Homo sapiens: one gene and its partners. The protein of the gene in region 3 purifies or fractionates together with the protein of the main gene of each other region. This does not show direct contact. Each region holds a gene or a part of one and is shown on either strand. Other genes may lie near its edges. The genes, in order: ENDOD1, EXOG, BZW2 and MRS2.

Evidence for each region.
Region 1: the proteins of BZW2 (region 3) and ENDOD1 purify together in Homo sapiens (co-immunoprecipitation; 3 studies listed by BioGRID and IntAct, with this or other methods). This does not show direct contact.
Region 2: the proteins of BZW2 (region 3) and EXOG purify together in Homo sapiens (co-immunoprecipitation; 3 studies listed by BioGRID and IntAct, with this or other methods). This does not show direct contact.
Region 4: the proteins of BZW2 (region 3) and MRS2 purify together in Homo sapiens (co-immunoprecipitation; 3 studies listed by BioGRID and IntAct, with this or other methods). This does not show direct contact.

Annotation. Positions count from the first base shown.
Region 1 is NC_000011.10:95,085,744-95,092,866, reverse strand, and holds the start of ENDOD1 (endonuclease domain-containing 1 protein precursor), read right to left. Parts: upstream 3,022-7,123; 5' UTR 2,940-3,021; coding exon 2,640-2,939; intron 1-2,639. UniProt on the Homo sapiens protein: May act as a DNase and a RNase. Plays a role in the modulation of innate immune signaling through the cGAS-STING pathway by interacting with RNF26.
Region 2 is NC_000003.12:38,520,328-38,526,820, reverse strand, and holds the end of EXOG (nuclease EXOG, mitochondrial isoform 1 precursor), read right to left. Parts: intron 3,649-6,493; exon of another isoform or gene 3,176-3,648; intron 2,921-3,175; coding exon 2,459-2,920; 3' UTR 518-2,458; downstream 1-517. UniProt on the Homo sapiens protein: Endo/exonuclease with nicking activity towards supercoiled DNA, a preference for single-stranded DNA and 5'-3' exonuclease activity.
Region 3 is NC_000007.14:16,649,169-16,656,197, reverse strand, and holds part of BZW2 (eIF5-mimic protein 1), read right to left. Parts: intron 1-7,029. UniProt on the Homo sapiens protein: Translation initiation regulator which represses non-AUG initiated translation and repeat-associated non-AUG (RAN) initiated translation by acting as a competitive inhibitor of eukaryotic translation initiation factor 5 (EIF5) function.
Region 4 is NC_000006.12:24,399,114-24,405,955, forward strand, and holds the start of MRS2 (magnesium transporter MRS2 homolog, mitochondrial isoform b precursor), read left to right. Parts: upstream 1-3,822; 5' UTR 3,823-3,933; coding exon 3,934-4,123; intron 4,124-6,054; coding exon 6,055-6,128; intron 6,129-6,842. UniProt on the Homo sapiens protein: Magnesium transporter that mediates the influx of magnesium into the mitochondrial matrix and regulates magnesium metabolism. Also permeable to calcium, sodium and potassium ions.

The DNA of each region.
Region 1 (7,123 bases), on a different chromosome or scaffold from region 3:
AAATGCTTGGAAGCCGCCAAGGGTACACATTGAGCCCTGAGCATCTTTCTGCAGTGGGGATCTTGGCTGGGAGGCAGGGCCTCAGGGAGCAGGCAACAGTGGGGGCAGGTTTGCTGCAGTGCACTCCAGGCCCAGCTGCACCTCACACCTCCTCCTCCCTCCCTCTCTCCCAATACTCTCTGGATCCTGGCTGACTTGACTTGAGGTCGAGCGGGTGGATGTGGGAGGCCAGCCACCTTGCAGGGAAAAGCATCCTGCAGTGCTCAGCCACAGTGACCATTCTGACCTCTCAGCACAGCAGGAACTCAGGCCCCTTGTACTCTTCAGAACCGCTGTACATCTTACCTCTCAAGCTGCCATTTGTAACTATTTCCACCCTCCCTTCCCATCTTCTTTAATCTCCACAGTCCCCTTCCTCATTATCTCACCCAGGGTCTCCATGTTACCTGGTTCCCTGTACTTCTTTCTGTCAAACTATGCTCCTTTACGACTCACTCCTTCCCTAGCTGCATAAATGGCTCTGCCTCCCTAAGCCTTCCTTGGTGGCTCCTCCCCACCTGATCCCTCCCTTCCATGATTCCTTTTTATTCTGAGCAATTGAGTGCATTCATCTATTTGTATTAGTTTACCTGTTCCAACTTCTTCACGCACAAATCCCTGAATCTGCCATGCCTTTCTCACTCATGATGTTTGTTCCCTCTGCTTGAAATGTCCTCCTCCTTGCCTCCCTTCTAAACTCTGCCTTATCTTTCCACACACAGCAGAAATGTCATCCTGACCCTAAGGCTTGCTTCCATCACCTCAAAGACAGATTAAATCTAATAGGACTTTGTTCACCTTTATTAAATTATGGTTTTTTGCTTAGGTCATAGCAACAGCTAGTACTTAGTACTCATGTGTCACACACCTGAGAACTTTATATATGGTAACTCATTAAATCTTCACACCACCCTATGCTATTATCTCCAATTTAACCTGCCCAAGTTCATAGCTAGTCAGTGGAGCAACTAGGATATGAACCCACATAGCATGGCTCTAATCAGATACTACACCACCTCTCCACCCAGCAAACTCCACCTGCAGATCAGGTAGCCTTTGTTCCAGAACTGCACTCAGATCTCTTGGTCCCAAATATCTGGCACACAGCAGGAGTCACTAAATGTGTTCTGAATTTAACTGAAATTTGTTTAGCATCCATTCCCATGATTTCCTCAGACGTATGTTCTGTCTCCCCAAGCTGTCCATGAGATCAAGGGGAAAGAACTAGCTCATTTGTTTTCTTCGCAGGCACACAATCACAATGCAAGATGAGAGGTGGGGAACACCCTGTGAGCTCTAGGGGTGCAGCTGGTGGAAAACTAATTTTGGATTTAAATGTGTCTTGTGTGTGCAACTGACAACGTCTTTTTCACATGCCTGATCTCGACAAGTGTTATCAACAGTTGAGGTAGGTGGAAGGATGTGAGGAAGATAAGAAAACTAGGTGCAGATTGTTTGAGACCTGGCCAAGACCTCAGAGCTAGAAATATCTGAATGAGATTACAACCCACAGGCTCTGAATAAAGCACCTGAAAGCCAGCCTCCTGTCCACTGGTGTGGTCCTGGGCAGCTGTGGCCGTCAGGAAAGGGAGAGCGTTGGGTCAGTTCTTCCCCCAGCAGCCTGGGCAGGGGTGGGAGGCTGGTGAGAGGGCAAAGGGGAGTCTGGCAGGGTGTTCTAGAGAGGAGGCCAACTGAGGAGAGGTATTAAGAGCAGGCCAGCAGGTTCGGAAGACTCTGAGGGCTTCTCAAGTGTTTGGTCACCTTTACCAGACGGGACAGAACACCATGAGAGGTGACACGATTTCCTAGTGGTATGATAATATAGATATGAGGAGTCAGGAAAAACTGGCTTATCTTTCCATCAGTTGGAGGTAGTCAATGTTTCCCTATCATTTTTAACTACCCCATTGCGTTTCTAAAAATCTGTATCTTTATTTCATTGTTCTAATTCAACACAACCGCAGATCGAATTTACTCAACGCCGTGGTAGAGGAAGGATTTTCAGGCTAGGATGAGCTCTGCAGAAGAGAAGCTTTACTTAGTAGAAAAGGCAGTGAATTTCTAGACAGAGACCTGCCCCATCTTACTAACTGGGTAGTCTTCCATATGTCTCTTCACCCCCTGGGTTTATCTCCTCTTCTGTAAAATGGGGATGAAAATGCCCACCTACCCACCTCCAAATGAGTGCTATGGCAATAAGTTGCACGAAGGCCTGTGAGCGCCCAGCCTAGGCTTTCTGCGGATCTGAACGGTCTCCAGGGTCTCTGTATCAAGCTCTTCACCATTCAGGAATGAAACACTGCGGATGTCTGCTCAGAAATGCAGGGAGAACCTCCTCCCACAGGGGACCTCCCGCCCTGCAGCTCATGAAGTGAAGGCTCGCAGATCGCCAGGCTCTTATTGTAGCTCGACAGGGGCGAGGCAGGCTAACTCCGGGGACGCAACAGGGTGGACCTGGAACCCGGGTTTCTTGGCCCAAGGCACCGAAGGCGTAGGGATTGCTGTTCCCGGCCCGCCCCTCGCGGTAGCTGCAACTGGGGGCATGTCCAGCGGCACGGTCTCCGGCGCCCGCAGCCCGGCTCGGGAACCACTTCGCTTACCTGCGGCTCCACCAGCCATCGCTGCTCGGCGCCGCCGGGCGCAGGGCGCGGGGCGCGGAACGCGGAGTACACGGGGATGCGGTCCCGGGTGCTGTAGAGGGTGGCGAAGCGCTCAGCACCCTCCGCGCGCTGACAGATCTTCACGTGGGAATCGGCCGCCAGCCCCGCAGGCGGGGTCCCGGCGTAGAAGAACTTGTCACATTCGCCAAAGCCGGCTTCCTCCTCGCCCACGAGCCGGCCTTCCAGCAGCCCAGCCAGGGCGAAGAGGCTGCCCAGCGCGAGCCAGCGCGCGGTGCCCATGGCGGCCTCTGCGAGCGCGGCGGGGCCGAGCGGCTGGGCTGCCGCGGCGCGAGCTCTGCAGGCTGGGCGGGGAGCGCACTACGCAGCCGAGCAGGGTAGGGAAGGGAAGTCGCAACCTAGGCGCGGCGCTCTGCGGAGCCGGGCGGGGCGGCCCGGGCGGCGGGGGCGGGTCCGCGTCGGGAGGCCGCGCCTCCCTCCCTGAAGATGGCTGCAGAGGCCCAGGGCCGCGCTCCGCGATGCTGACAACGTACCCTGGGCTGCGCCCGGGACTGGAGACGCGGGTCACCTGCCTCCGCGCCGCCTGGTCTCAGCAGTCCGGGGGACGCGCGCTACCAAGAGTGGAGAATCCGAGTGGGGCGGGCCTAGTCCCGGGGCTGGGAAGAGATAGTCGCATGGACTGGGCGCCAAGAAGCCTGCTGATCGCGCGCGCCCCACGGCCGCCCTGGTGATGCAGAGGGGTGGCGTGAGATGCTCGTGGAGCTGCGGCTGGTTCGGAGTGGATGGGCAGAGTTCCCCTCTGAAATTTCATGAAGATGCGTCTCCCACTCTCCACCGAAGTACTCAACGACCAGCACACGCATACAATTTTGATGGAGTTTTTTGTTTTTTGTTATGTTTTTTTAGCTCACCAGAAACTCAGAGAGTAAAGAAATACTGTTAAAGGAAGTTCCTAAACTAGGCAGACAGTATAACCCTGTGTGGTTTTCTTGGTGCAAGTGTTAGAAACAAAACCGATACCAAGCAAGGAAGGAGGCCAGCCAACGTCATTGGTCAACAGGTTGGCCAATTCTTTCCTTCATTTATCCCTCTGAATGCCTAGGTGCCAGCCTGAGATAGGCACTGGATTACCACAGGGGTAAACAAGAGCAGGGCTCCTGCGGTCACAAAGACAGCCTAGTGGGAAAGTTTGTCATTAACCGAGGAAACATGCTATTAAAGGGATAACTAAAAACTGAACACAGATCTGTGAGACCCTGACAGCTACAGGGGTTCAGGATGTAATCCGGGAAGGTTTGCCTGAAGAAGTGGCATCTGAGCTGAGACCTGGAGGATGACATTAACTAGGCAAGGAGGAAAACCATGTGCTAAGTGGTCTCCCACAGAAGGGAACATGATGTATTGGAGGAATTTAAGGAAGGCTAGTGTGGGTAAAGCGCGGAGAACCGCGTGGGGGATGATGGGAAGTGGGGCTAAAGGAGGAGGCAGGGGTCATATTACTCAGGTTATTATAGGCCAGAGGCCTTCAAACACTTTTTGAGAAGGCCCATAATGAGAAAAGTTTGATGAAATAATTCTTATGCTTATGATTGGCATTGCAATTTCATATTTCTGTTCTACTTCACTTTTTTAAAAAAGTGCTGGTGTTGACCCACTAAATTGTTTCTATGAGCCACTAATGGCTCATGACCTGCAGTTTGGAAAAAATATTGTAAATCATGTTGAGGATTTTCATCTTTTAAAGGTGGTGACTCGATTCTTTTTGCTATCAGGGAAGAGACTGGTAGATTGAAGTGGCACAGAATAAATGGGTGGCTCACACCTGTAACCCCAGCACTTTGGGAGGCTGAGGCAGGCGGATCACCTGAGGTCGGGAGTTTGAGACCAGCCTGGCCAACTTGGTGAAACCCGTCTCTACTAAAAACACAAAAAAATTAGCTGGGTGTGGTGGCGGGCACCTGTAATCCCAGCTGCTTGGGAGGCTGAGGCAGGAGAATCGCTTGAACCCAGGAGGCGGAGGTTGCAGTGAGCCAAAATTGTGCCACTGCATTCCAGCCTGGGCAACAGAGCCAGACTTTGTCTCAAAAAAGAAAAGGAAAAGAAAAGAAAAACACCCCATAATTGCCACAATCCAGATAAGAGATGGTAGCTTGGACCAGGATGGTAGGATGGTGGCAGCAGAGATAGGGTCAAGGCAGCTACCCAGGGCCAGGGCCTGTGCTCATCTTACGATGTCATCTGTTTCCCCAGTGTGCCACTACAGGGACTGAGACCAGAGCCTGTTGATTCTGGCCTAAGCTGGCACAGCCAGTGAGTCCTAAGACAGATTTGAAACAGGTCTCTCTGCTTCCCAAGCCTGGCCTTTTCTTTTAACTCACAGCGCATCTGTAAGGTGAGCCCATAAAGAAGGAAGCTCTTCAAGAGATTATACATTGGAACTTAAGAACAAATTTCTTACAGGTTTTAATTCCGGAAAATGTTGACTATGTTTGGTCCCAGAAATGAAACCAAAGTTTGTATCTTAGTTTTTTTAAAAAAAGGAGGGGACACATTTAGTGTGATGTCACAGAAGAGGCTAGACTTGAAGTCCCCTTTGATCTGGATGATGACCCTGATCATCTGGTACTAGTATCTCAGTCATCTCATCCTTGTAGGCTTCAATCAAGTCCTCCCACAGGGACAATGCTGCTCCTGGGATGCTGGGAGGATTATAGGTTTTACAGGATTTTAAAAATATTTACATTATTTTATAAGGTTGAATATAGGGTTCCCCAATGTTGACTTATGATGTCTACCATAAAGATATATAAACACAGTTGAACAACTAGAAATCCATCCCTCTCTTCTCTGAGTTCTTTAAACATTTATCTGTTATGATACTTATCATGGTAGAGTGTTAATAGTCCCTGTATCTGTCTTCTTTATTAAATCATGTGCTCCTAGGGACAAAGGTGGTTGGTGGATCCCAGTGGCTACCACAAAATCTGGAGTGATTAGATGCCAAATATGATTATGTTGTATTTTAACAAATGCAGAAAGTATAATACAATCATCATTGGCCTTTATGACTAAAGTATTTATAAGACTTTAATTCACTTTCTCAAAATTTCTTGATGCCTGCCCGCCACCTCTGATAAGCATAAATATCTCTGCCACTCAGTCCCTGTGGCAGACTTTAGTTTTTTCCCCAGCCCTCTATCAGTGACTGACACACATATAACACTGAACATTTGTACATCCCACAGCCAGGATGATTTTGTTTATTTTCTTTAGTTTATAGTACAAGACAATAGATTTTTCTTCCATGTGCTTGCCTTCCACAGATAAAATATTACTTTTGCAAATTACAAATGTTCTCACCCCAAGATTCTGGAACAACCTACAAGGTAGGAATGCCTTGATCTAATTAAAACATTTGCTAACTGCTGATTTTAGGGGAAAACTGTCTTTAGCAGCATCTGTATGTGTAAAACATGTAGGTCCATCAATAATTCACTGCTGTCTCTACATTTGGTCACTGACTCTCTTCTCACAGGGAAAGAGGTTTCAAACCAGATCCTCTTAGGTCTCTGCACTCAGACCCAGCCAAAGCTGGGTTCCATAGCCTTCAGCAAAGGCTTGAGGATGAAAAGTAATGGTTGATGTGGAATAAAACATTTGACATGCACTTCTGTGGCTTGGTTGGTTCTGTCCAAAGTTATTTAAAAATATGAGCCCAACTAGACACTTCTTTCCCCTGCCTCACTGCTCTGATGATAATTGCATCTCTACCATCACACCTTTGACCAAGCCATCCTCATTTGTCATGCCCAGTTTTTATCCCGTCATCCCTTCTAATCCACTCTCCAGCTGGGATGACTTCCTAACATAAATCTGATGATGTCACCCTACCCTTACAGCACTTAATCACTCTCCATTTACCTTGGGATGCAGCCTGACATACTAGCTGACTTCCATGACCCCAGAGACCTGGCCTTTCCCTCTCAGGCCTCATCTCTCTCCACTCCCACCTTGCCCACACGCTCAGCTTCTTATATTTCCATGAATGCACAGTGTTCTCTCTTTTGTTTTGTTTTTGAGACAGGGTCTCTCTGTCACCCAGGCTGGAGTGCAATGGTGCAGTCACAACTCACTGCAGCCTCAATGTCATGGGTTCAATTGATCATCTCACCTCACCCTCCTTAGTAGCTGCAGCTACAAGCGTGTGCCACCACATCAGCTAATTTTTGTATTGTTTGTAAAGACAGGGTTTTGCTATATTGCCCAGGCTGGTCTGGAACTCCTGAGCTCAAGCGATCCATCTGCCTTGGCCTTCCAAAGTGCTGGGATTACAGATTTGAGCCACTGAACTCAGCCTGATGCTCTCTCTAGTCTTTGAAACTTTGCATCATAAACTACTTCCCTTGTCCTGGAATTCTCACCACCCATTCTCATCCCTTCACTCATTTCATCTAGCTTTTTTTTTT
Region 2 (6,493 bases), on a different chromosome or scaffold from region 3:
GAGGCCCAACACCTTCTTCTAGGGGCAGGGCCCTCACCCGGGTGTGCCCCAAATAAACTCAGGAATGCCCCAGTGGAAAAAAAAAAAAAAAAAAAAACTTCATTGATCTAAAAATAAGAGATTCTACCATCTAGGTGGAGAGGAACGAGCAAGAAGAGCATAAGTAACTCCAAGGCTGCTGGCAATGCAGGTCGGCAGAACAGAGCAACAGGGGAAGGGAGTTGGGGGCCCGCCTCTAGAGATGGGCAGTAGGTACCTAGGACTTATCCCACAGAGCTGCCCACTCACACTCCTGGAGAAACACCCAGGCCACACCATCACCTCTCCATTGAGGAGAAAAAATTGAACAGATTGTTTGGTCACAGTGACATTTTGGCTCTACATCCCCGAGAAGAGGAGAACTGGTACAAGCTAATGGGGAACAGTGTGACAAAACAGAATGGTACTAATCAGGCTACTGTGTTCTGACCCCTCAACTTTCCTTTTTTACCCAAATAAAAGAGCAGAACAATGTCAATCATTATCATCTTATCTTTATCTGAAAGCCTTGGCATTTCTCTTAGAACAAACACACCACAAAAATCTTTCTTGTAATACCACTCGGAAAAGACAGCAGTGGTATGTATGACAGATTCAGACAAGTTCTTATGCCCCAAGACGTTTTACTGACAATACTCAGGATAGTCCATGAAAGGACTCCGTGTAAACCCAAATCAAGAGATCTGGCTCAGAAAAACAGCCACAATTTCCCCTAGGAATGCTAAATGCCTTTGGACCTTTGGCCTACTATGCTAGGTAGACAAGCAGGCACACAGGAAGCAAATAATAAGCTAGTGATTTTGTGGGCAGACCTTTTTCTTTTTTCTTTTCTTTTTTTGAGACAGGGTCTCCCTCTGTGGCCCAGGCTGGCGTCCAGTGGCATGACCATGTCCCATCGCAGCCTTGACCTGCCAGGCTCAAGCAATCCTCCCATTTCAGCCTCCCGAGTAGCTGGGACTACAGGTGTGCACCACCACGCCCAGCTAATTTTTGTATTTTTTTGTAAAGATAGGGTTTCATTATGTTGCCCAGGCTGGTCTCAAACTCCTGGGCTCAAGCGATCCACCCACCTCGATTTCCCAAAGTGCTGAGATTATAGGCCTGAGCCACCATGCCTGGCTGCAGATCCTTCATAGGTTTCTTAATCTTAAGAACAAAAAGCTCACCTGGAAAGCAAGAACACATCAATTTGGCAGTATCTGGTCACTAAAAGAACTGTATCTCTGGAGGCAAGCATGGGCTCTAATAAACCCCACAAAGTATTGCCGTCTAATTCCCAAATATTCCTGACTGTCTCTTTCCACAGAGCTAAGGAGGGTTCAATTCAAAGAACATTAAAGTCCCTTTGGCTTGCATAGCAGACGAGAAACCAGACTCTTCTTGCCAAGCATGCCTCAGGCCCACAAATACCCATGGAAATAGGTATATATTTCTGAGTAAAAAGCCACCATCCATGTCAGAAAAGATTTGAATCTACCTCAGCTGTCTTTCTTCTCTTAGATCTGTCTGCCTCATACTTTGTGGATGACTACTTTGGAAAAGTGAAACTCAGGTAAGACACTAAGCTCTCTAAGCCTCAATTTTCTCACAGGTAAAATGGGGATAGTGTATTTACCTCAGAGAGTCATTGTGAGACAACACATGTAAAGCACTGAGCCTAGTATATAGAACACATTTAATGAGCAGAAACTAGTTGCTGAGTGCTTCTACGTAGACAGAAGTAGAGAAACGAGCAGATTCATGAGAGGAGAAAAAAGAAACAAATATATAGTGCATGTGGACAGGAACTACACAGAGGATTTCTAAAAGCTGCCTCCAAGACCAATTCAGGTCCTAGAGGGAAAAATGTACAACATTGAGTTCTGAGAAGGCTGGGCAGATACATCACAGACAATGCATGGTTTGGAGGCATGAAACTAAACAAATGCCTTCCCAATACTCTACATCCACAGGGATACAAATGCAGTGTCATCTGTGGGCAGTCTTCCTGTTAACTTGACACAAGATCAGCCCTCCATCTGCAGGTGTCAAAGCTCCCTTAATAATTAGTTCCTGAGTCAAATATAATACTGACAAAAACATTGTAGATCTTTCATCTTTTGGGGGAATTTTTAGTCATAAATTTAGGATTCCACTGTTTCTTTAAAGCAAAGCCACTAGTAGCTGAGGGTGATGGTGTGTGCCTGTAGTCCCAGCTGCTCAGGGGGCAGAGGCAGGAGGATTGCTTAAGCCCAGAAGTTTGAGGCTATAGTGAGCTATGATTCCACCACTGCACTCCAGCCTGGATGACACGGCGAGACCACATCTCTTAAAGAGAAAAACTTTTTAAAAAGCAAAAAGCAAAGCCACTAAAATATGTTAGCCTAAAGAGGGCATGCCTGCTTCATTACAGACGGTATGACACATCTTGAGATAAAAACTAGGATGGCTTTCTTATCTGGGTTCCTGACTGCTCCTTAGCTTTGAGTTCTTCTAGCTTCTTCTCATAGCGACTCATAAAGTAATCATCTGGTTCAATCTCTGCATTCTTCAAGTTTTCCATGATCTTTTCCAGTCTGAGCACTGATCGGGCTCCTTCAATCTTTCTTGTACTCAAGTACAAGGTGAACTCCTGGAAATCCAGGAGCTTACAGGTGTCCACAGAGCAGATATTCCGGATATCACTAGTTCTATCCAAATGAGGAAAAAACACCAGTCCTGACAACTTCTCTAGGTCCTGGAGGCTCACTTGGAATTCAGTTAACTGGGGCTGGAAGCCGATGGCTTCATTGGGTACCACAAAGGCCCCTAGCGCCAGTGGTTCGGTAGATACTGAGCTTCTGCGGGCCAGGATTACCTTATAAAGGTGTGAGGGGACTGCCACGTTGTCCTCGCCAATCACCTAAAAACAAAGCAGCCATATTAGTGATGCCAATTTGTGCTAACAGTTCGCAAATTTTTTCTGAAAAATACTTATTTAATGCATTGCTGAAATGTACTTATAAGCCATCCCACTCTGTTCTAATGAATTTAAATTCAACTGCCAAAAATAATAAACTGACTCAGAGATTCACATACAAGAAGAGTATTTAACAGGTCAATTCTGATCACATTCTTTAAAATAATATAACCCCAGGTGAGGCACGGTGGCTCATACCTGTAATCCCAGCACTTTGGGACGCCAAGGCGGGCAGATCACTTGAGGTCAGGAGTTCAAGACCAGCCTGGCCAACATGGTGAAACCCCATCTCTACTAAAAAAAAATACAAAAATTAGCTGGGTGTGGTGGCAGGCGCCTGTAATCCCAGCTACTTGGGAGGCTGAAGCAGAAGAATTGCTTGAACCCAGGAGGCAGAGGGTGCAGTGAGCCGAGATTGCACCACTGCACTCCAGCCTGGCCGACAGAGCAAGACTCCACCTCAAAAAATAAAAATAAAATAATGCCAACCCAAAGATCAGGGGTCACAGTCTCTGTTCTGTTTGTAGGACAAAGGACAAAGGAATGCCATGAGTGAGTCCTGGTTTTTTAATAGACAAGAAAAGCTGTCATTTTCTCTTCATCTCATAATCAGAACTTCTGGTGCTCCAAACATTCAAAGGTCAAAACTGCAGGCTTGGGTACTCCCAGCTCTAGAAATAAAAACATGGCCTTAGTTTATGAAATTCACTAGGGAACTAAACAGATAGCCCTTAGAGAAGCAGCCAGGTGTCAAGTCAACATTACCATCTCCAGGATCACTTCAATTAGGGCTAATTTTTAAAATTAAATTACATAAATGTAAATGCTGTTTGCTCTGAGTTTTGCACATCCTTGGGCTTGTGATCAAAGAACTTCTAAATATGTTGTCATATCAAACATTTTGGAAAGGTATCCACACAATGAAGAAGCCAGAGCCAGGGTCAGGCCTAGAAAACATAAATTAGTTGTGTGGTTTGGCTGAAATTAATGAAATAACATTATTACTAAACCTTTTCAAATTTCCTTCCAATTGGCATCTGGGCCAGGTGTGGTGGCTCATGCCTGTAATCCCAGCACTTTGGGAGGCCAAGGCAGGCAGATCTCCTGAGGTTGGGAGTTTGAGACCAGCCTGACCAACATGGAGAAACCCCATCTCTACTAAAAATACAAAATTAGCTGGGCGTGGTGGCGCATGCCTGTAATCCCTGCTACTCGGGAGGCTGAGGCAAAAGAATCACTTGAACCCGGGAGGTGGAGGTTGCAGTTAGCCGAGATTGTGACACTACACTCCAGCCTGGGCAACAAGAGCGAAACTCCATCTCAAAACAAAACAAAACAAAACAAAAAGGCTTTTTTGAAAAAGAAAATACTCAACATCTATTTACTTAATGGTCCCCAATAACTGACATAATCCAACTAAAACATGCTCATTGGTATTACTGCCCCTCCCGGGCCCTTCCCTGGTAAGAGTCAGTTTTCTTTCCTGATCAGACAGCTCTGCCTGCAGCAAGATTCCTTCTTGTGAGCCCAAATAAGACAGAGACACGACAGCTACAAAGGAGGTTTCTTTTCTGCTTTTTTCAAGCTCCTACCTACATGGCACACAGCCTGGGAACTCCATGGCCATCTGCTGTCTGTCACACATGAAGGTCCCACTGCCAAGACCAATTGCAGAGCTTCAGGGAAGACCCGTGCACGGGAATGATTTCCATAACCAACTGTCTTCGAAGTTACTGAAAGTGGTTGGTCGGGGTGTGGTGTAAAGTCTATGAAACTATGTACTACAAACATAAAATCCCCATTTCACCCCAAAAATTCATTTATGCAGCTGGGAAGATAAACATACTCTTCAAAGCCAAAAATATACTGAGGGAGAACCCTATGGAAGTCCACAATTAACTCACAAATAACCAAAAGATGTTAATTCAACAATGCAACTCAGAGGTCCTGTGCCTGGCATTGCTGGAAATACAGAAAAGAATATGCTTTAAAGTATATGCAGCTGGTGCCTCCACTCAAGAAACTTACCACCTAGAGTGGGAACCAAGACCTTCAGCTTTCACTACAGGTAGAATGTGGTTAGGTACCAATACAAAGCCCAAATAACAGCACGAAGGGGATTCAGGGGAAGCTGGGGACCAGAACTGAGGGCACAGATGCAGCTGAGCCATAGTTTGCAAAGAGGGAGAAGGTGAAAGGGGCTTCAAGTATTCCAGGTGCTAGCTAGGAATCCAGCAGTTAAACAAAGTCTTTGCGCCACCTTGTGGACATTCCCCATCACTGCAGTACAGTTCAAGAACATTCACTTGATTTTCTCTCCTCATGGACTCCTTGTCTACAAACAAACGGCAATTTTCAAATATAATTAACATGCCCATTGCTGCCATGCAGAGCTAATCAGGCTCGTAAAATTCCAGCCAAAAGTAAAGACGTTGGACATTTTCAGTTCTACAGCTTTACTTTATGCAAATGTACCATTTCTATAGGTGTTTAAAAACTCTTACAATTGCTAAAGGACCTCGATTCTACTTTTGAGAAACCTCATGGAAACAGAAATTCCTATTAGGAATCACAGGTGTGATCCTTCTACCCATGACCTTCTCACACTATTTCAAGGGGGTAAAATACTATCCCTAGAACTAAGGAGAAAAATAAAAACTTAGCCACTCACTAATCTCTTTTCTGATTCAGTCTGCTTTGTTCTTAGGAAGCAAACATCTTTAATCTGTCTAATATAGGGACAGGTCCTAGTTGGGTATTCAGAAAAACACACCGTTTCTTCCTTGAATTTAAGACAATTTTTTAAAACAACATCAATCGTAAAATATTTTAGAGCTGTCTCTTTAAAGACAACTCAATCTACATAATAAATTTTTCCTACTTTTGGAAAAATTGGGAGACTTCCAGAAATGTTTCTAAACACTACTAGAGGTTTGGTGGACTGGAAGCCCAGAGACCTGGTCAAACCTGGCTTTGCCACTAAGCTGCAAGTCGCGTCCACCCATTTCTTGTTTCTTCATTTACAAAATACGTAACAGCCATCCCCGTGGGTGGATTGCTATTTTGTATTTTATAAATGCCTCTCTCATAGAATTGTTATGAAGATACAATGACATGTTAGTTAAAAATTTTTCAAAATCTACAAGATCTATGTAAAAAGCTATTTTGTAGTGGACATCATTCAAAAGATACAACGGCATTTGGTACAAAAGATGGTTTTACAGAGGGATGGGGGCGGGGGAAACGTATAATCAAGCAAGATTAGACTAGTTACAGGTCAGCAATGGGGTTTCAGGAGGAGAAAGCAACTTGGGCACAAATGATGTCTGTAACAAAGGACTCAAAGGCTTAACATAAACCAAGTCTAGTTAATCAGTGAGTCAGCAAACAACCCTTTTCATGTAAGATTTAGGTATAAAAATATTTTGCAAAGGAAACCCTTGCTGCTATTAAATTCCCAAGAAGCACTGAACTCTACTCAAGACTGTAGCAAAAATTGGAAGTCAACTGGGAGTT
Region 3 (7,029 bases):
ATACACATTCCTGGACTGAATGCTGTACTGGGAAAAAATATTTATGTATATATATATATAGTCATTTATATATATACACACATATATATGTATATATACATACACACACACACACATATATATGACTATTGAGACAACCTAAGAAGTTGGAGTATAAAGATAAAATTATGGTATCTATGTTAAAATTTACTGAATTTTTTTTTGCACTGTGGTTCTGTAAGAAAAGTATCTTATTTTTACAGAATAAATACTGAAGAAATAAGAGATAAAGGCAGAAAGTGTATGCAACCTACTCTCAAATGATTAAGAAATAAAACTGATTATGTACACATAGAACCCTGGAGCAATGGCAAACACAGGAAGCCATATGTATTTTAGGGCATGGCATGGTGGCTCCGATCTGTAATCCCAGCACTTTGGGAGGCAAATATCATATGATCTCACTCATGTAGAATCTAAAAAAGTTGGTATCACAGAAGTAGAGAGTAGAATAGTAGTTTCCTGGAGACAGGAGAATAGGAGTGAGGTGGGGATGGGGAAAGATTGGTGAACAGGTACAGAGTTACAGTTAGGAAGAATAAGCTCTAGTGTTCTATTGCACAATAGAGTTATTATAGTTAACAATAATGTATCATATACTACAAAAGAGCTAGAAGAAAGGATTTTGATTGTTCTTACCAGAAAGAAATGATGAGTGTTCAATGTAATGAATATGCTAATCACCCTGATTTAATTATTACACAATGTATATGTATATGGAAACACCACACTGTACCCCACATATGAAAAATTACTATATGTCAGTTAAAAACAAAAATGTTACATAGTAACTTAAGTAATTTAAAAAAACATTTTCCAGCATTTACCCATCAAAGTAATTTCTTCCTTCAATAAAGAAAAACTATGAACTAATAATGCTTCCATTAAACAAAACCCCTTTTAATTAATAGATTTATGAAACTTTTTTTAGAATTTCCTCTGGAGTCTACAGATCATTCTTTTGACTATACTCAATGATGAGAAATTTCCTTGTTTGATAGAGGATTTAATTTTAGAAAGTCGCCAGAGATCATTCAGAGTCTAATCCATTGAAAAAAGTAGGTGGCCACTTTGAAGCTATCTGGTGTGTCCAACCAGGTTTTTATGACAAAATACTGAACAGAAGCAAAAAAGTAGGTGATTAAGCTGAGAAACAACAGCATCTTTATTTGAAAGTGAGAGGTAACCTTTAAAAATCACTGATTATAAGGTCAGCTCATCATGTATATTATAGAATATTTAAGGAAAAATTAGAAAAAATCTATCAGTCTAACTTTCAGTAATGACCACTGTTCACACTTAAACACAGTATAGTATACAGGCTGGGCACGGTGGCTTATGCCTGTAATCCCAGCACTTTGGGAGGCTGAGGCAGGCGGATCACCTGAGGTCAGGAGTTTGAGACAAGCCTGGGCAACATGGTGAAACCGTGTATCCACTAAAAAAAAAAAAAACAATTAGCCAGGCATGGTGTTGCACGCCTGTAACCCCAGCTACTTGGGAGGCTGAGGCATGAGAATCACTTGAACCCTGGAGGCAGAGGTTGCAGTGAGCCAAGATCATGCCACTGTATCACAGCCTGGCTGACAGAGCAAGACTCCGTCTCATAAATAAATAAATATCATCCGTTTTTTTTTGGGGGGGGGGGGTTATATACAGAAAAAAATTAAAATTAAATTCTACCATCTTTTCTCATATTATGCTAAAATACAATTTAAAAATGATTTGCATTTGGACTTGGAGTTATATAACTTGATTCAGTGATATTCTCTGAATCTTTATTTTAAAAGTCATCTGTTCCATTGCATCACTTTAGGAAAAGCAGAAACTCTTATAGAGAAGGAAATGTCCTTGAAATTTGTTAATAATATTATAATTTTAAGCTTAGAAAAAAGCAAGATGGTCTCTATATTATTATTATTACTTTTTGAGACAGAGTCTTACTCTGTCACCCAGGCTGGAGTGTAGTGGCACAATCTCAGCTCACTGCAAACTCTGCCTCCCTTGGATTCTCGTGCCTCAGTCTCCCAAGTAATTAATTTTTGTATTTTTTTTTTTTTTTTTTTTTTTTTTTTGTAGAGATGGGGTTTTGCCATGTTGGCCAGGCTGGTCTCGAACTCCTGGCCTCAAGTGATCTGCCCACCTTGGCCACCCAAAGCGATGGGATTACAGGCATGAGTCACCATGCCCAGCCAGTCTCTATATTATTTTAACTAGTGATTTAAAACTTTAAAGTAATAACACACTGATGGCAAAAACAAAACAAAATCAAACAAACAAAAAACCCCAACACAGTACAGAAGGGTAGTGCTCTTCCCAATCTTTCACTCTTGACCTTATATCCTAGCCCCACTCCATGGAGATGATAATAATTTAAACCCTTTAACATCATCCTATGTAACCTTTTAGAAAATGCCTATGCATTCGAGATTTTCACCTCCACTGAAGACAAAAGTAATATTTATTATTAATGAGTATTCTCATCTCCAATGTTCCTTCCTCCAGAAAAGTGCTTTTTCACTGGAAGATACCTAAATACATGTTGAGCTTTACATAGTAGAGGAGAAAGATGATTTTATATGAGATTTACTTTCCACCTAGAGGAAAGGAGCTATGGACAGCACACACAACACTGGCCTTGCTAACTGAGGTGAGGAGAACCAGGAGATGAAAATCAGCAAGAAGTGGAGTGGCAATGCCAGAGAGCAAGTTAGTTTAAGACAGACACAAAACTGATGGGAGTGTTGGTGACTATTACTCCAGTGGGAAGTCAGAAGACAAGTTATTAAAGTAAAAGAGTGTTGAAGTGTTTGCCTCTCTTCAGAGGATTTTTAATCATGGAAAAGAGGAAAATAAAATCTTCAGAAAAAAAAGAAATAAAAAGAAAAGTAAGGCCTAGACTGGTAGACAGTGAGAGAATTCTGTTTTGGAGCAATTGCTTAAAAATCGTAATAGTGGACCTTCAGGAAGCTCAAAGGTGGTGGTGGGCATGAGTCCAAATATTGGCTCACTTACTAGTTCTCTCAACCAAGAAACTCCCATCCTCCCAGAAGGGGACCTGCCCAAGCCTGTCTAGCAGGTGAAGCTTTATTTGAAGGGCTACACACACACACACACACACACAAAGTTACTTTCCATATGCATGCTTATTACATAATGAGAGCATGAACTGGATAGAAATGCCAAGCCTAGTCTAGGGCACGCTGATGACATGGGACTGGATTCCCCAACACAACTTTACAGAAGTGGACCATACAAAATTGAATTAAAGGAAATAAAAAAGAACTAGTACAGAGCTACAAGCTCTCTGAATCATACATTTTAAAAAGGTTTAAGCCAGGTATGGTGGCTCATGCCTGTAATCCCAGCACTTTGGGAAGCCAAGGCGGGCGAATCACCTGAGGTCAGGTGTTCGAAACCAGCCTGGCCAACATGGTGAAACCCCGTCTGTACTAAAAATACAAAAATTAGCCAGGCATGGTGGCAGGCGCCTGTAATCCCAGCTACTCGGTAGGCTGAGGCAGGAGAATCACTTGAACCCAGGAGACAGAGGTTACAGTCAGCCAGTCAGCCGAGATCACACCATCGCACTCCAGACTGGGCAACAACAGCGAAACTCCGTCTCAAAAGAAAAAGGTTTAAACCTACAGAGAATCATTCATTTATTTGTTTGCCAAATATACCAGGTCTGGTACTAGTCAATAGGGATGCAGCAAGCACTAAATCAGGCAAATTTCATGGAGGTCACTTTCTAGCAGGTGGAGCTTTGTTCCAAGTATTGCACAATCGGGCAGAACAAGTTAGCAAGCACTGATTGTCTCCAGTATGTTTAAAGACAACATATGATGCATTCGAGATGCAGTTGTGTTTATTAACGTTTTAATAATTAAGTGCGTGTTTTTTTACTTTGTAACTTACAAGTGGCATCCACGCGGAATGGAATACTTTGAAAACCATGGATGTAAGCCCAGTCCCTAAGCTAACCTTCAGATAAGGCACTGAGATGTCAAACCACTTGGCTGAGGTCAGGAATTCCATTCTAGCATTGGTAAGACAGTGGAGATCAAAGCAGAACGATCCCTGCCCATCTGGAGCTTATGTACATGGAAGAGTTGGGGCCAGAACCTGATCCACTGTCTCCACTCAGTGCATTTTCCAAGGAGCCAACTAAAGCTGTTGCAATGTCTTAGAGAATTATTTATATGATTCTCGAAGACAGCTTTTTCATTATTTGCCTCATAAATTTTATAGTTTGGAATAAGATGGAGTAGCGCATAAATATTAATTTAAAGTTGAGTTCAGCACTTGGATAAATTGAATTAGCATATGTTACTTCCAAAATACCAAAGAGTTCTCCATAGAGTTCTATTAAGCGGTGGGGGGGAAAAGGCATTTATCTTTAGAGAGAGAATTTAACAATATTGCCTCTTAGGGACATACGAATATTAGAAAATTTATGGCACCATAATTTCTAGCACTATAGGATACAGTTTTTAAATTGTTTCCTGCAGAAGCTCAACTCTAACACAAACACAATCTTCACACTCCCAAATACTAACACCGCATCCTTTTCCTCCAGCCAGCAGTTTCCTCTGCACCGACAACTAGGGGTTCTCTTTCCTGTTTATAATAGTCCCATTCAATTACCTTGTTCACTGAGAAAAACATATAACATTTCTTTTTTCTTCTTAGAAATGACCATAAATCCAGGTTAGTTTGAAAACCATTAAAGTCTTCTGTGTGGATATATAAAAAGGATGACAGTAGAATATCATCCAATAGTAGCTTATGATATATTCTCTACAGTGCTAAACGTTATTATCCCTTATTATTCATCTCTGCCCCAGGGCTTTTCTTGAGATTTATTTAGAAGTCCTCAAAAATAACAGTACACCTGTTATATTTTTTAAAGTTCTCATCTAGCATAAAAATAAGTTGAGATGTAAAAAGAAAATATAATGCTACATCTGACACAAAAAATAATTCTACATCTTAAGTTATTGTTTTCCTACTAAAATATTAATATTTTCAGAATGGAATTAAAGATAGCCAAAGGATTATACTATCTTAAATATTAATACAGGGCATTATTCTTTCTTTTTGTCATTATACTTTTTTCCTTTAATTTTTGAATAAACTTAAAAAACATCAATGGAAACACCTATTGCTAAAAATCAAGAAAGAATAATGAGAACATTATCTTTTTGGCATTTAACCTTAAAGAATGGTTCATTCAATGAGTTATTCAAATCTTTATTTTCAAAATAGATAGTTTACAAATATGACTACCTGAACAATTTTGGCACTCTTCACTTAATACACGCCAAATTTAGAACGGGGCAAATCATTCCACTCGGCACCTAACTGCCCAAAAGATACTTGCTAAAGAGCGCCATGGCCTCAATACACAGAAATGAGTGAGTTAAGAATGAAAAGTATTCTTGTTTATGACCTGCTAAGATTGGTGGATTTCATATTAATTAAATATTCTTGTAAAATCCCAAAGTCTAGGATGACATGTTATAAAGGACATTTAATATATCTAAAACACAATAAAAAATTGTAAAGATCAAAAAATCAGTTTAAAAAATTGCACAAATTAGAAAGTAGGTGTCAGATTAAGTATTCAGCTAAGCAAACACTGAGTAAGAACCTACCAGTCACACCCTGTCCTGGGCCTGCTCCTGATTTTCCTAGACTAATACTTATCCTATCAGTGCTGACATTGCTCGAAACAGTTTTGGTACTCTTTTTTTTTGGAATGCCTTCTGAGTTGGATTATGACGCACAGAAGAACATCAGTATCTCCACTTCATTCACCTCTTGATTTTCTCAGTTAAACTAAATGTATCTGTACCCCTTCTTCAGAATTTTCTTTTCAAAAAAGATGAAGATTAACTACCAGTAAGATATTCATCAATTTGTTCTACAAGCACTGAGTAATGCCACCAACCTTTTACTTTTTGGAGAAGTTAAAATGTGATGTCAAATGTTTATGGAAACGCATTGTTCACAAGACAGTTCTTTGCAGATTTAGGTGTAACTGTTTTAACACTTAAATGAATAATCACATAAGCGAAACTCCAAGTATAGAAAAAAGAACATTTGTATTTATATTACTTTCTTATGTTGTGTTTAAAAAAAAAAGATTTCTTAGAGGCTGTAATACTTCCAAATTTTCTTTTTAAAAACTTCATTATGGAAAATCTCAAATATATCCAAAAGTAGAGAGAACAGTATAATCAAGTGAATATACTCATCACCCATCTTCAACTGTTAACATAGTCAATTTTATCTCATTTATATTCTCATTCAGTCTCTCTTCCTTTCTGTCACAGAATTATATTAAAGCAAATCTCAGCTGTCTTCTCATCCAGTTCTGAAATAATTCTGTTCCTATCTCTAAAAGATAAGTAATCTTTTAAAAATATAACCGTAATCTACTTCCAACTTAAAAAAATCAAAATTTCTTATTATCAAATATCCAGTCAATAAAGATACCTAAGTCTAAGGAAAAAAAGTCAAATGTCAAGACAAACAGTACCCTGAAAGATGTAATACTCAAAAATGCAACAAAAAGGCAGCATTCTCCTAATGTAGAGAGCTGGAAATCAGGGTCTTTAATGGGGAAATCTAAGAATGGCATGCCAAATTTGTAACATGTGCACAAGAACAATTTTTCTTGGTTGATAGCATTCATCAGAATGTCAAGAAGCTTGAGATCCAAAACATTTAAAGACTTTCTGCCTCTGGTTATGATTGTGCGTGCTTAGTGCCACCTCACCTCACATTGCCAGGAAGGATTAGTCAAGTAGGAAAACAAATCCACCTAAAATAACTTAGAAATCAAACTGAATTCAACTCAGCTTGTACTGAGCATACACTAGGTGCAAGACACTGGGTTAAACCTGAGAAACAAAGATAAATTTGACCTAGTTAATGTATACTGTAGAATGAGAAGGGACCAAACAGATTAATAATAACTATAAT
Region 4 (6,842 bases), on a different chromosome or scaffold from region 3:
ATCCCAGCACTTTGGGAGGCCAATGCGGGTGGATCACAAGGTCAGGAGATCGAGACCATCCTGGCTAACACGGTGAAACCCCATCTCTGCTAAAAATACAAAAAATTAGCTGGGCGTGGTGTCAGGCGCCTGTAGTCCCAGCTACTTGGGAGGCTGAGGCAGGAGAATGGCGTGAACCCGGGAGGCGGAGCTTGCAGTGAGCAGAGATCACACCACTGCACTCCAGTCTGGGCGACAGAGCGAGACTTCGTCACAAAAAACAAAACAAACAAAAAAAAAACTGCTCCTTTCCAAAATTCCCTATCTCAGTAAATAGCACCAGCAAGGCCCTGCTGTTCGGGATACACATTTTGGAGCAACATCTATGCCTCTCTTTCTCTTATATCCCATCTGCAAATGTTGTCAACTCAGCCTTCAATATATGGTACCAAGCCCAACTCATCTTCCCCTCTCCACCATCCCCACCTTAGCCCAAACCATCATCACCATCTCTCTGCTTCCAATTGCCTCTCTGTAGTCTCTTTCCCACACAGCAAGAGTGACCCATTTAAACATAAATCAGATTGTTACCTCTGCTCATTACCTCTCTGCTCGAAGTCCTCCAATGGTTCCCACCCTTCTCAGAAAAATCTTTGCCACGAATTACGAGGCTGTACGTCTGGACAGGTTCCAGAGTTTTCCTTAGACTTTGCAAAAGTTATCTTAGAGCTGTCTCATTGTGCTGGGTGCAAATTTTGTTTTAAAGAGAAAGTTATCACATATTTTCTCAAAGAAGCATCTCTGAAGGCATGTAATATGTTTGAAATACTTATCTCATCATTAAAGCTTTAGTAAAATGAAAAATCTACCAGCCATGTTCTCTATACTCAGCGATTTTCCAGACTTCAACGCCCTGGAAGCAATGATTAAAGTTTTTCTTTGCCTTCAATTATCTGAAGGGTTGGGCTGCCCCTCCACACCTGTGGGCATTTCTCATCAGGTAGAATGAGAGACTTGGAAAAGAAAGAGACACACAGACAAAGTATAGAGAAAGAAAAATGGGCCCGGGGGACTGGCGCTCAGCATACAGAGGACCCGCGCCGGCACCGGCCTCTGAGTTCCCCTAGTATTTATTGATCATTATCAGGTGTTTCCTGGAGAGGGGGATGTGGCAGGACAATAGGATGATAGTGGAGAGAAGGTCAGCAGGTAAACACGTGAACAAATGTCTCTGCATCATAAACAAGGTAAAGAAAAAAGTGCTGTGCTTTTGATGTGCATATACATAAACATCTCAATGCCTTAAAGAGCAGTATTGCTGCCAGCATGTCCCACCTCCAGCCCTACGGCGGTTTTCCCCTATCTCAGTAGATGGAATATACAATCGGGCTTTACACTGAGACATTCCATTGCCCAGGGACAAGCAGGAGACAGATGCCTTACTCTTATCTCAAATGCAAAGAGGCGTTCCTTCCTCTTTCACTAATCCTCCTCAGCACAGACCCTTTACGGGTGTCGGGCTGGGGGACGGTCAGGTCTTTCCCCTCCCACGAGGCCATATTTCAGACTATCACATGGGGAGAAACCTTGGACAATACCTGGCTTTCCCAGGCAGAGGTCCCTGCGACCTTCTGCAGTGTTTTGTGTCTCTGGGTACTTGAGATTAGGGAGTGGTGATGACTCTTAACAAGCATGCTGCCTTCGAGCATTTGTTTAACAAAGCACATCCTGCACAGCCCTTAATCATTTAACTCTGAGGTGACATAGCACATGTTTCAGGGAGCACAGGGTTGGGGGTAGGGTTACAGATTAACAGCATCTCAAGGCAGAAGAATTGTTCTTAGTACAGAACAAAATGGAGTCTCTTATGTCTACTTCTTTCTACACAGACACAGTAACAATCTGATCTCTCTTTCTTTTCCCCACATTATCAAGTCAAACATCCTCTCTTCTGTGAAGGCTTCTCTTTGTGCACTGCCCTCCTACTCCATCCCCAGTCCCAGTACCCTGCAGAATAAAATGTTTCTATCTCTGTCTCCTTAGCTTTGTGTCCATACATAGATATTGAAAGGAAGTCTGTGGAACTTGTGTCTGCCTTGTATTACTACTGTGGAAGGGACAATAAATTTATTAACTCATATTTTTAAAATATGCATACATACTGTATTTAACCTAAGACTTTTTTCATATTTTAAAGACTGGAATTGAGATATGTCTTTCAATCTACATGTTTAGAAAGCATAACTTATCAGTTTTTTTTTCTTTCTTGGTGGTACATAAAATAATGGTACCTTAAAATTGATGCTATCTTACATTTTATTAAATATGGAATAGAAATCTTATGTGTCTGTGCTCCTCATTCTTTATAGCAAAAGTTTAATACATGACATCATTCCATATGACAGTTGATTATTTTTGCCACTACTGGGGCTCAAACCATAATACCCCAAAATATGATGTTTTGGCATGCTGAGTCTTTGGGGTTTGTTTGTTTTGAGATGGGAGTCTCACTCTGTCGTACAGGCTGGAATGCAGTACAGGCTGGAATGCAATGGCATGATCTGGGCTCGCTGCAACCTCCACCTCCTGGATTCCAGCAATTCTTATGCCTCAGCCTTACAAGTAGCTGGGATTACAGGCACCTGCAACCACACCCGGCTAATTTTTGTATTTTTAGTAGAGACGGGTTTTGCCATGTTGGCCAGGCTGGTCCTGAACTCCTAACCTCAAGTGGTCCACAACATTGGCCTCCCAAAGTGCTTGGCTCCCAAAGTGCTGGATTACAGGCATGAGGCACCACGCCCGGTGGCATGTTGAGTCTTTGAATTAAAGGAAATTAAAAGGGTCTCAGAAAGAAGCCTAAAAATCAAGGCCTCTCTCTCTCACCTTCCCCCTTCCTTTTGTCTCTCTGATACTCTTACTTTTTCCAAGCACCTGAAGGGGCTCTCTTTTCCTGCACAGCCAGATAAGGAATTTCCTTATCTGACAGAGAAAACTCTTTTCCAAAGAAATGCAATTGTCTTAAAACCCGTTCCTTAGGAATCGCATTAAATAATCAGAAGAGATTAATCACCCAGAGAAGAGACAAAAACTGAAAGTCATAGCCACACTGAGACTTTTCATAGATACTTCTGAGGGTAGCTCCAAGAGATTACCTGGGAAACTTTACCTGTATAATAGGACAATTTTTGTTCAGAGTGAAGTTTCACAGCTTGTCCACAAGCGATTGTTTGTACTTCTGTCCCACTGAATGTCCAAGGAGAATCATTTGCAAACCACTGTCTGGCTTTCGGGCCCATTCATACCTATCTCCCTCTACTCAACAAAGAAGGGTATACAAGCATCTGGACCTTAATTGAGTTATTGAGTAATCACTCTTCTGTGATTTTTCCCTATGCACGTTAAGCAAATTTTGTATGCCTTTTTCTCCTGCTAATCTGTCTACTTAGTTCATTCCAGCAACTTTCAGAGGGCAAAAGTAGGAGCTTTCCCTCTTGCTCCCTACACCACGTTAAATTTAAATATAAATTAAATGATGTGGGAATGGGTAACCTGCTCATTTCCAAACTGCAATTTTCATAGGTATGAAAATTCTCCACAAACTACAAAACCATGACACTCCAAGCGCCCAAGAACCTAGGTTGGACAGCTCACTTAGTGCAGGTAAACGTGCTCCACCCATCTCCCAGCCCGCCTGCCCCCTCACTTAGGTACAGGTGCAGGTACAGGTAGGCAAGCAAACGTCTATTGGCTGTGGACTTAACAGGCTCGCCCACAGGTACCTTCCGAGCATGCGTGGGGAAGTAGCACGCAGGCGCGGCACGCCCCGCGCATGCCTGGTGCACAGAGTCTGCAGGTCGGGCGGTAGCGACAGGTCAGAGCTGCGGCCTGAGCAGCCAGCGTCCGGCATGAAGGTCTGGGGTCTGGCTGCTGCCTGCTTCTTGCTCCAGCACCATGGAATGCCTGCGCAGTTTACCCTGCCTCCTGCCCCGCGCGATGAGACTTCCCCGGCGGACGCTGTGTGCCCTGGCCTTGGACGTGACCTCTGTGGGTCCTCCCGTTGCTGCCTGCGGCCGCCGAGCCAACCTGATTGGAAGGAGCCGAGCGGCGCAGCTTTGCGGGCCCGACCGGCTCCGCGTGGCAGGTACTGCCCTTCCCCGGCAACAGCCTTGGGACGCTGGTCTTGCAGTGACCTTAGACTGCTGCCCCAGCCGTCCGGCGCGGCGCGCCTGTTGCTCCGCGCCCTCCGCAGGCCTCGGCCTCCCGCGTGTCCTGTGAGCTTGCACAGGCCCGCGGGCCGAGCTGCGTCCCACTCGCTCAGAATGCGACCTTGCTATGTGCGCTGTGCCCTGCCGGGGTCCCAGCGGCCAACCCTCTGCCTTCTCCTCCACCGCCCTTGCTGCAGATTATGTAACCATAGGAACAACCTAGGAATCGTTTACAGACCGTGATCACGTTAGTTAACACCCGCTTAAGTGCTCTTGTAAGAGGTTTTTTCTGTGTTGTTTTTGAGACAGGGTCTTACTATGTTGCCCAGGCTGGACTCAAACTCCTTGCCTCGAGCCATCCTAACGCATTAGCCTCGCAAAGCGCTGGGATTACAGGCGTGAGCCACCACACCTGGCCGAGAGGTGTTTTTAAACAAGGATTTCATCTGTTCGGAAGTCATAAGTATAAATTAATACTTCCCTGTTTTCTGTTTCTTCGTTATGGACACATTTATACAGTTGTCCAGTTGCACGGAGATTGGGGACGCACCTAGAAGTGAGGCTAAAGACTGAGTTGTTTCTGAGAACGACTTACTTTCAACTACAGTACTCTATAAGTAAACAGCCAGGGAGATCGGATTGAGAAAAAAAAATCTTATTTGCTGTTTATTTTTTCACCAAATGTTGAAGCATGGTGAAAAGTTAAGATTTTCACAAATGTGAGTGCAAATATTTGAGGAATAAAAGGTATTGAAATGAATGACTTTATTAAGAACATAGCAGTGTCCTCAAATATGTTTTCTCAATTGTGCTCTCAAAAGCCTCCCAAAGTAACTCCTCGTCAGCACCTCATTCTCCACTTATTGGAGAGGCTAAGTTGGGTTACATGCTCTGCACCCTCAATTGATAATGCTTGGGAATCCAGTTTCAGCAAGTTGGAGGAAACTTTTAGGACAAGCATTGACGTTCACAATCTCAATCCCGGTTACACTCTAATTTGTGACATTAAAACATTGAAAGGCATTTGTAATCAGCAAATGCCTTTTACCTTTATTCATCTTACCCTTATAGTGATAATTTGTATTTTGTAAAAGGGAAATGAAACTTCAGATACTAACAAATTACAACAATCATTACGTGTATGTAGTAGAAAAAAGATCAGAAATAGGTTTTTTTTTCTACAGTCTCTGGAATCAGTGTAATTACTTTGGAAGCACAAAACAGTGTCCTCTGTCAGTCATTAAATGTACTTGATTATACTTCACCGCTCACTTCGACTCAGTCTAATCACGTTTTAAATAGACAATTTTAAAATAAAGATTTGTCATTTCAGCTCAGTGGGGGTATTTCATAAGTATTCACTATAAAGGATATCTGTAGAAAAGAAGTAAAATCATAGGTTTCATAATTTATGAGCCAGTCAACTGGAATGCTTGAAAGATCAGGTGGTACTTAGGACCTATGTTTTCTAAAATGTATCTACTACCAAATGTGCATGAAGAGTCTTTTAAATTATGCGAAAAGGAAGACCAGACATTTTCTTAAATCTCAGAACACGATGTTGCACATTTGTTCATCCAACTCTGAGATATCAGTAATAATTAGAAAGGTAAAAGGGTGATTGGAATCCATCAGTTATTTTAATGCCTCACCTAAGCCATTAGTTTTAAAAATCATTCCCTGCCAAACCTAAGATAGTCACTAACAGATGTTAAAATTAAGAAGAGTATTTCTTCTTTTCTTATAGGAAAAATATTTAAAAATAATAAAATAGTCTGAAGGCCTCCACATACTTTGAGAGTTGTATTTTAGCTCTATGTGAAAACCAATCATGTGACCACAGGAATTCTCTTAATTTATTCTTCAGGTGAAGTGCACCGGTTTAGAACCTCTGACGTCTCTCAAGCCACTTTAGCCAGTGTAGCCCCAGTATTTACTGTGGTGAGTATGTACAGTACATTGGAAATCGTACAGAAAGTGCTTCCCATACATAAGTTAACTCGTTGGACTGTTGGCCAAGATACTACTTATTTTGAGCTTTATAATCATCATAGCTACATGTCGTGGCTGTTGTGCCTGGCCAGTGACCTAAGTGCCTGCTAGATTTGCTTAACAATGATCTTGAACCTTTGCTAATGACTGCAGCTCCCCTTTTAATACTAGAACAGGTCAATCACAATTCAGAGCCATAAAGAGGCTTGAACCTATGTTCTGCAAGATAATACGCAGGCAGAAGCATTTTGAAGGCAGCAGAGAGTAGTATTTAAAAATGCATGCTTTGAAAGGTCATGATCTCTAACTTTTCTCTGAAATGGTTCGGGGGTGGGGATGAGGGGGGAAATGAATGAATAAGATAATGTATCACACGTATTTTTAGAGAAAGAAGGCTGTTGGGGCAAAATGTTAACAAAGGTGACTCTAGGTGAAAGCTCTATGGGAATTGGTTGTAATATTCTTGCAACTTCTTTGTAGGCTTTTTTTTTTTTTCCAAAAAAAAAAAAAGTCTTGATAAAAAGGTGTGCCGGCCGGGCGTGGTGGCTCACGCCTGTAATTCCAACACTTTGGGAGGCCGAGGTGGGCAGATCATGAGGTCAGGAGATTGAGACCATCCTGGCTAACACAGTGAAACCCCATCTCTACTAAAAATACAAAAAA